Homo sapiens: one gene and its partner. The protein of the gene in region 1 purifies or fractionates together with the protein of each later gene. This does not show direct contact. Each region holds a gene or a part of one and is shown in the gene's direction. Other genes may lie near its edges.

Region 1 (3,823 bases):
CACCGTGCCTGGCCTTTTTTTCTCTTTAGAGATGGGGTTTCCCCCATGTTGCTCAGGCTGGTCTTGAACTCCTGACCTCAGGTGATCCACCCACCTCGGCTTCCAAAAGTGCTGGGGTTACAGGCGTGAGCCACCACATCCGGCCTTTTTTGTATTTTTAGTAGAGATGGGGTTTCACCATGTTAGCCAGGATGGTCTTGATCTCCTGACCTTGTGATCCACCCGCCTCGGCCTCCCAAAGTGCTGGGATTACAGGCCTGAGCCACCGGCGCCTGGCCGCAGCTGCATATTTTTAATTGCACTAGGGACTGGGTGTGGTGGCTTATGCCTATAATCCCACCTCTTTGGTAGTCCAAGATGGGAGGGTCACTTTAGGCCAGATGTTCCGAGACCAGCCTGGGCAACATAGTGAGACTCTGTCTCTACAAAAAATAAAACTTAAAAAAATTGCACTGGTATGTTAATTTCATATGGTATGTGGGTTTATTGTTTCACATAGAGATTAAAATGGCTTCCAGAGGAAAGACAGAGACAAGCAAATTAAAGCAGAATTTAGAAGAACAGTTGGATAGACTCATGCAACAATTACAAGATCTGGAGGAATGCAGGTAAGAGTTTAATTGTATGTTGTTATGCTGGAAACTGGCGTTTTTTCTGCAGCTAGCTCCGTGGATGCAGGCCCATGTGTGATGATTCTGCATTCCCCTGTAGTGTTCTTTGCAGTGCTTTGTCTATTAGAGAAGTAAACTTATTGCAGGCTTTGGAGTCATAAAGGCTGGGAAATGAAAGTCATTCAGTTAACTACTAAGTGCATGTGAACTTGAGCAAAATACTTACCTTCCTTGAAGTAGAAATAACACCTACTTTGTCTTTAGTATTTAAATCAGTCCTACCTGCTGTCAGGCTAAGAAGGTACTACTTGAACTTCTGGCATGTAGTTTCAGCCTTACCTGCACAAAGGACCACAACAGTTCATTGCAGCTTTTTTTTTTTTTTTTGAGACAGAGTCTTGCTGTATTGCCCAGGCTGGAGTGCAGTGGCGAGATCTCAGCCCACTGCAACTTCTGCTTCCCAAGTTCAAGCGATTCTCCTGCCTCAGCCTCCCGAGTAGCTGGGATTACAGGCATGCACCACCATGCCCGGCTAATTTTGTATTTTTAGTAGAGACGGGGTTTTACCATGTTGGCTAGGCTGGCCTCGAACTCCTGACCTCAGGTGATCTGCCCATCTCAGCCTTCCAAAGTGCTGGGATTACAGGTGTGAGCTACGGCACCCTGCTTTATTATGTGGTTTCTTAAGTATCCTCATTTTGGTAAAAGAAAAATGTTTACCAAAGTAACTATATTGCAGGAAAATGCCCTCACTACTACTATGTGAACACATTCACCATCAGCATTTTGATATTTCCCTTCAGTCTTTCTCTAATGTACAAGTATTAAGATTGCATTTTTCACTTGGAACTCTTCATTTTTCCATATCATGATGTTCACCTATTTCAGAGAGGAACTTGATACAGATGAATATGAAGAAACCAAAAAGGAAACTCTGGAGCAACTAAGTGAATTTAATGATTCACTAAAGAAAATTATGTCTGGAAATATGACTTTGGTAGATGAACTAAGTGGAATGCAGCTGGTAAGTATAACATATAGGCGACAGAGGACAGACTTTGTTTTTTTGTTTGTTCTTGTTTTTGTTTGAGATGCATTCTTACTCTGTCGCCCAGGCTGGAGTGCAGTGGGGCAGTCTTGGCTCACTGCAACCTCCGCCTCCCAGGTTCAAGCGATTCTCCTTACTCAGCCTCCTGAGGAGCTGGGATTACAGGCATGTGCCACCATACCCAGCTAATTTTGTATTTTTAGTAGAGACGGGGTTTCTCCATGTTGGTCAGGCTGGTCTTGAACTCCCAACCTCAGGTATCTGTCTGCCTCGGCCTCCCAAAGTGCTGGGATTACAAGCGTGAGCCACTGTGCCTGGCCTTTAGTTTTTTTTTTTTAGAGATGGGGTCTTGCTACATTTCCAAGGCTGGTCTCAAACTCATGGGCTCAAGCAATCCTCCTGCCTTGGCCTCCCAAGGTGTAACTTCTAGATGAGTGTCTGTTTATGCATACACAACATATCCTTCCAGATCTTCATTTAGTTGTGTAATTGCTTCCATGACAGGAACCAGTAAACCTTGATAAAAATTAAGGATCCGTCAATCAGTTATTGCAATATCTGATTTGTTGGACTATTTTGGTTAGTTTTTGCCTTCTTGTGTTTCTAGGCTATTCAGGCAGCTATCAGCCAGGCCTTTAAAACCCCAGAGGTCATCAGATTGTTTGCAAAGAAACAACCAGGTCAGCTTCGGACAAGGTTAGCAGAGGTAAAATTTCTTTAAATTGATTTGGTTGCTGTGTGTTTTTCATTTCCTAGGCCAATTCATTATGATATCCTATGGCTTAAAAATTTGCCAGGTGATTTTAGAGCCACAACTAACAATTTTCTGACAAAATTAGTACTTTGAGCAATTATAGTTGATAATGAATGTAGAGCTTTAAACAATATACGGCAGTTTAAATTGCCACTGACCACTTCTACCTGGACTCCACCTTTAATGTTTTACCATTTACTTCTGGAGCTCTAACTTAAAATCACATTGAGAATTAATTAGCAGCATTGCTTGTATGCATGTGTAGCCTATCTCATCTAAGAATTTCAAGTATCTTTGTAAACCTGATACTTCCAGAAGTCTGTTTATAGGCTTGGATGTAATTAAGAGTTACCAAATTATTTGTAAGTATGGGCAATTCAGTAGCATAGTGATTCAGAGCATGGACTTTGGTCAGACTGGCTGGATTTGAATTCCTGCTTCACTACTGAGGTATGTGACAAGTTTTTTATGTTTTTTTTTTTTTTTGAGATGGGGTCTTGTTCTGTTGCCCAGGCTGGAGGGCAGTGGCGCAATCTCGGTTCAGTACAACCTCTGCCTCTGGGTTCAAGTGATTCTCTTGCCTCAGCCTCCTGAGTAGCTGGGACTACAGCAGGCACATGCCACCACGCCTGGCTAATTTTTGTATTTTTAGTAGAAATGGGGTTTACCATGTTGTCAAGGCTGGTCTTGAACTCCTAACCTCAAGTGATCTGCCCGCCTCAGCCTCCCAAAGTGTTGGGATTATAGATGGGAGCCACTGCGCCTAGCCTTTTGTTTGTTTTTTGTTTTTTTGTTGTTGTTGTTGTTTTTGAGGCAGGGTCTTACTTTGTCACCCAGGCTCAGTGTAGTAATGCAATCTCGGCTCACTGTAGCCTCTGTCTCCTGGGCTCAAGCGTCTCCCATCTCAGCCCCTCAAGTATCTGGGCCCACAGGCACAACACCACCACACCCCACTAATTTTTGTATTTTTCATAGAGACAGGGTTTCACCATGTTGGCCAGGATAGTCTTGAACTCCTGAGCTCAAGCAATCCACCCACCTCAGCCTTCCAAAGTGGTGGGATTACAGGCATGAGCCACTGTACCTGGCCTGGACAACTTATTTTATTCATCCCCTTTGTGCCTAGGTTTCTCTGTCTGTAAAAACATGACAAAGATAGTCCTTACCTCTTATGGTTCTTATGAGGATTAAATGAAGTAATATGTGTAAAAGTACTTTGAATATTCCCAATGTGTGGTACATGCTATTAGTGTTTCTGGTGGAAGAGGTGATATTTTACTAGATGATTTACTAGAACTGCATTTAACATTTCTATCATATTTGCCTTGGATTATATCTGTAGTTCTTTATAATATTAATCAGCTAGAGGATTTTTTTTTAAGAAGTACGTCTGAAAAGCTATATGTATGT
Region 2 (3,819 bases), on another chromosome or scaffold:
TCTTTCTGAACTTATCTACCTGGTTATGATACTGTGGGTCCATACACAAGTAAAATAAGATTAGACAGAAGCCAGTATACATTTTGCACTATTGATGTGATACTGTAGCCAGCCAGGACCTTACTGATCTCAGCATAATAATGCTCACTAATAATGAAGTCTGCATAGTGACACTCATCAAGACTGAAGATGAAGCAGGTTACGTGCTCCATTGGAAGGAGTTTCTGATAGTCTCCTGCTGTTTTACCCCTTCCATTTTTTAAAATAAGAAATTAGCAGCCCTCTGCATAATGTAGCTGCCTATATGCAGTTTTATCCTGTGCCCTAAAGCCTCACTGTCCAGAGCTGTTGGTCATCAGATGCTTATTGCACCCTCACCATGTGCCTGGTGCCCTGCTGGGTAGAGAACACAGAGGACAGGGCATACTTCTTGTCCTTAAGGAGCTTGTGATCTGTGACAGTAAGCCCTCCTGGGATGTCTGTGCCATGTGATTGACTTACAAGTGAAACTGTCTTATAATATGAAGGTCTTTTTGTTTACTTCTAAACCCACTTGGGTAGTTACTATCCCCAAATCTGTTCTGTAAATAATATTATGGAAGGGTTTCTATGTCAGTCTACCTTAGAGAAAGCCAGTGATTCAATATCACAAAAGGCATTGACGTATCTTTGAAATGTTCACAGCAGCCTTTTAACAACAACTGGGTGGTCCTTGTAGGCAGAACATACTCTCCTAAGTGGTTGTAGGAAATTGCAAGGAAAATAGAAGGTCTGTTCTTGCTCTCAAGGAGGTTACCTTTAATAAAAGAAGACAAACCCAGATAGATATGTAAACCAAAATACTATGCCCCTTAATACTTTATAAGCAGCATTGTTAAATAGTTCTTACGCTTATACATTCACAGAACTACCCTGTTTTCCTTGTATATAATGACTTTTGCTGGCAGAACTGAAATATAAACTGTAAGGGGATTTCGTCAGTTGCTCCCAGTATACAATATCCTCCAGGACATAGCCAGAAATCTCCATTCCACACATGACTGAGTTCCTATCCCTGCACTGGTACTGGCTCTTTTCTCCTCTTTCCTTGCCTCAGGGTTCGTGCTACCCACTGATTCCCTTTACCCTTAGTAATAATTTTGGATCATTTTCTTTCCTTTAAAGGGGAACAAAGCCTTTTTTTTTTTTGAGACGGAGTGTTGCTCTGTCACCCAAGCTGGAGTGCAGTGGCACGATCTTGGCTCACTCCAACCTCCACCTTCCAGGTTCAAGTGATTCTCCTGCCTCAGCCTCCCGAGTAGCTGGGACTACGGGCACGCACCACCACGTCTGGCTAATTTTTGTATTTTTAGTAGAGATGGGGTTTCACCCTATTGGTCAGGCTGGTCTTGAATTCCTCACCTCAGGTCATCCGCCTGTCTCGGCCTCCCGAAGTGCTGGGATTATAGGTGTGAGCCACCGCACCCAGTTGGGAACAAAGCCTTTTTAACACACGTAAGGGCCCTCAAACCGTGGGACCTCTAAGGAGACCTTTGAAGCTTTTTGAGGGCAAACTTTACCTTTGTGGTCCCCAAATGATGGCATTTCTCTTTGAAATTTATTAGATACTGTTATGTCCCCCAAGGGTACAGGAGGGGCATCCCTCAGCCTATGGGAACACCCAAACTAGGAGGGGTTATTGACAGGAAGGAATGAATCCAAGTGAAGGCTTTCTGCTCTTCGTGTTACAAACCAGTTTCAGAGTTAGCTTTCTGGGGAGGTGTGTGTTTGTGAAAGGAATTCAAGTGTTGCAGGACAGATGAGCTCAAGGTAAGGTAGCTTTGGCAGCAGGGCTGATACTATGAGGCTGAAACAATCCTTGTGATGAAGTAGATCATGCAGTGACATACAAAGACCAAGGATTATGTATATTTTTATATCTCTGTGGTTTTGAAACTTTAGTACTTAGAATTTTGGCCTTCTGCACTACTCTTTTGCTCTTACGAACATAATGGACTCTTAAGAATGGAAAGGGATGACATTTACCTATGTGTGCTGCCTCATTCCTGGTGAAGCAACTGCTACTTGTTCTCTATGCCTCTAAAATGATGCTGTTTTCTCTGCTAAAGGTAAAAGAAAAGAAAAAAATAGTTGGAAAATAAGACATGCAACTTGATGTGCTTTTGAGTAAATTTATGCAGCAGAAACTATACAATGAAGGAAGAATTCTATGGAAATTACAAATCCAAAACTCTATGATGATGTCTTCCTAGGGAGTAGAGAAAGGCAGTGAAATGGCAGTTAGACCAACAGAGGCTTGAAGGATTCAAGTACAAGTAATATTTTGTATAAAACATAGCAGTTTAGGTCCCCATAATCCTCAAAAATAGTCACAAATATAACAAAGTTCATTGTTTTAGGGTTTTTAAAAAACGTGTTGTACCTAAGGCCATACTTACTCTTCTATGCTATCACTGCAAAGGGGTGATATGTATGTATTATATAAAAAAAAAAACCCTTAATGCACTGTTATCTCCTAAATATTTAGTAAATTAATACTATTTAATTTTTTTAAAGATTTGTCTGTGTAGACACTAAAAGTATTACACAAAATCTGGACTGAAGGTGTCCTTTTTAACAACAATTTAAAGTACTTTTTATATATGTTATGTAGTATATCCTTTCTAAACTGCCTAGTTTGTATATTCCTATAATTCCTATTTGTGAAGTGTACCTGTTCTTGTCTCTTTTTTCAGTCATTTTCTGCACGCATCCCCCTTTATATGGTTATAGAGATGACTGTAGCTTTTCGTGCTCCACTGCGAGGTTTGTGCTCAGAGCCGCTGCACCCCAGCGAGGCCTGCTCCATGGAGTGCAGGACGAGCTACTGCTTTGGAGCGAGGGTTTCCTGCTTTTGAGTTGACCTGACTTCCTTCTTGAAATGACTGTTAAAACTAAAATAAATTACATTGCATTTATTTTATATTCTTGGTTGAAATAAAATTTAATTGACTTTGCTTCTGTGTGGATTTTTTAAATATAAAAAAAATCTTATAATAAGGCTTAGTGGCTGGACACAGTGGCTCATGCCTGTAATCTCAGCACTTCGGGAGGCTGAGGTAGAAGAATTGCTTGAGGCCAGGAGTTGGAGACCTGACTGGACAACATAGTGAGACCCCATCTAGCGTTAAAATTTTATCTGTGTGCCTAGAAGCTTTTATAATTACACTTTTCCTGCAGAGATACGAAGTCTTTCTGTGAGTTCTAATATGTTATTTTGTTCAGGATGCTATGATGTCATAATACTGCAAAGCAAGCAAGGCCTGCAAATACCTCATAAGTAAAATTGCAGGTTTTTATACATCTTTAGGAGAAACATCTTTTTAAAAAAATATAAATGAGAATTAGAAAAGACTAATAAGCATTTTGTGGATGGGGTTGGATTGGGAGTTTCTTGTTTTATAAGAGCACTCTGTGGTACCTGGCTGCTCCTTCTATAATTTGTTTGATGAATCTTCTATGGTTGTTACTCCAATATCCAAAGGCATCACAGAGTGAACTGAACAATGTTTAAGTGGCATGAATACAGAGCTTTCATTTCTATTTAAAATAATCACATCCCACTTGGCTGCTTCTCTTTTTGGCACAGATTTCATACTCAGTGCTGTGCTATTTGTAGGATAGATCTTCTGCAAAGCTGTTCATTGGCCTCGGCTGCGTTTCTCACCAGCCATCTGGGTAAGACAAAGCAGATGACTGGACAAACCCTTTACCACTCCTGGGAGAACTGGGAAGGTGATGTCCATCACCTTAACAGACTGTAAATTCTTGGGAACAGGG

Evidence for each region.
Region 2: the proteins of LZIC (region 1) and CDK19 purify together in Homo sapiens (affinity purification with mass spectrometry, with the first as the bait; one large-scale study listed by BioGRID). This does not show direct contact.

The regions. Positions count from the first base shown.
Region 1 is NC_000001.11:9,933,304-9,937,126, reverse strand, and holds part of LZIC (protein LZIC), read left to right. Parts: intron 1-499; coding exon of another isoform or gene 500-507; coding exon 508-608; intron 609-1,499; coding exon 1,500-1,635; intron 1,636-2,266; coding exon 2,267-2,365; intron 2,366-3,823.
Region 2 is NC_000006.12:110,609,155-110,612,973, reverse strand, and holds the end of CDK19 (cyclin-dependent kinase 19), read left to right. Parts: 3' UTR 1-2,996; downstream 2,997-3,819.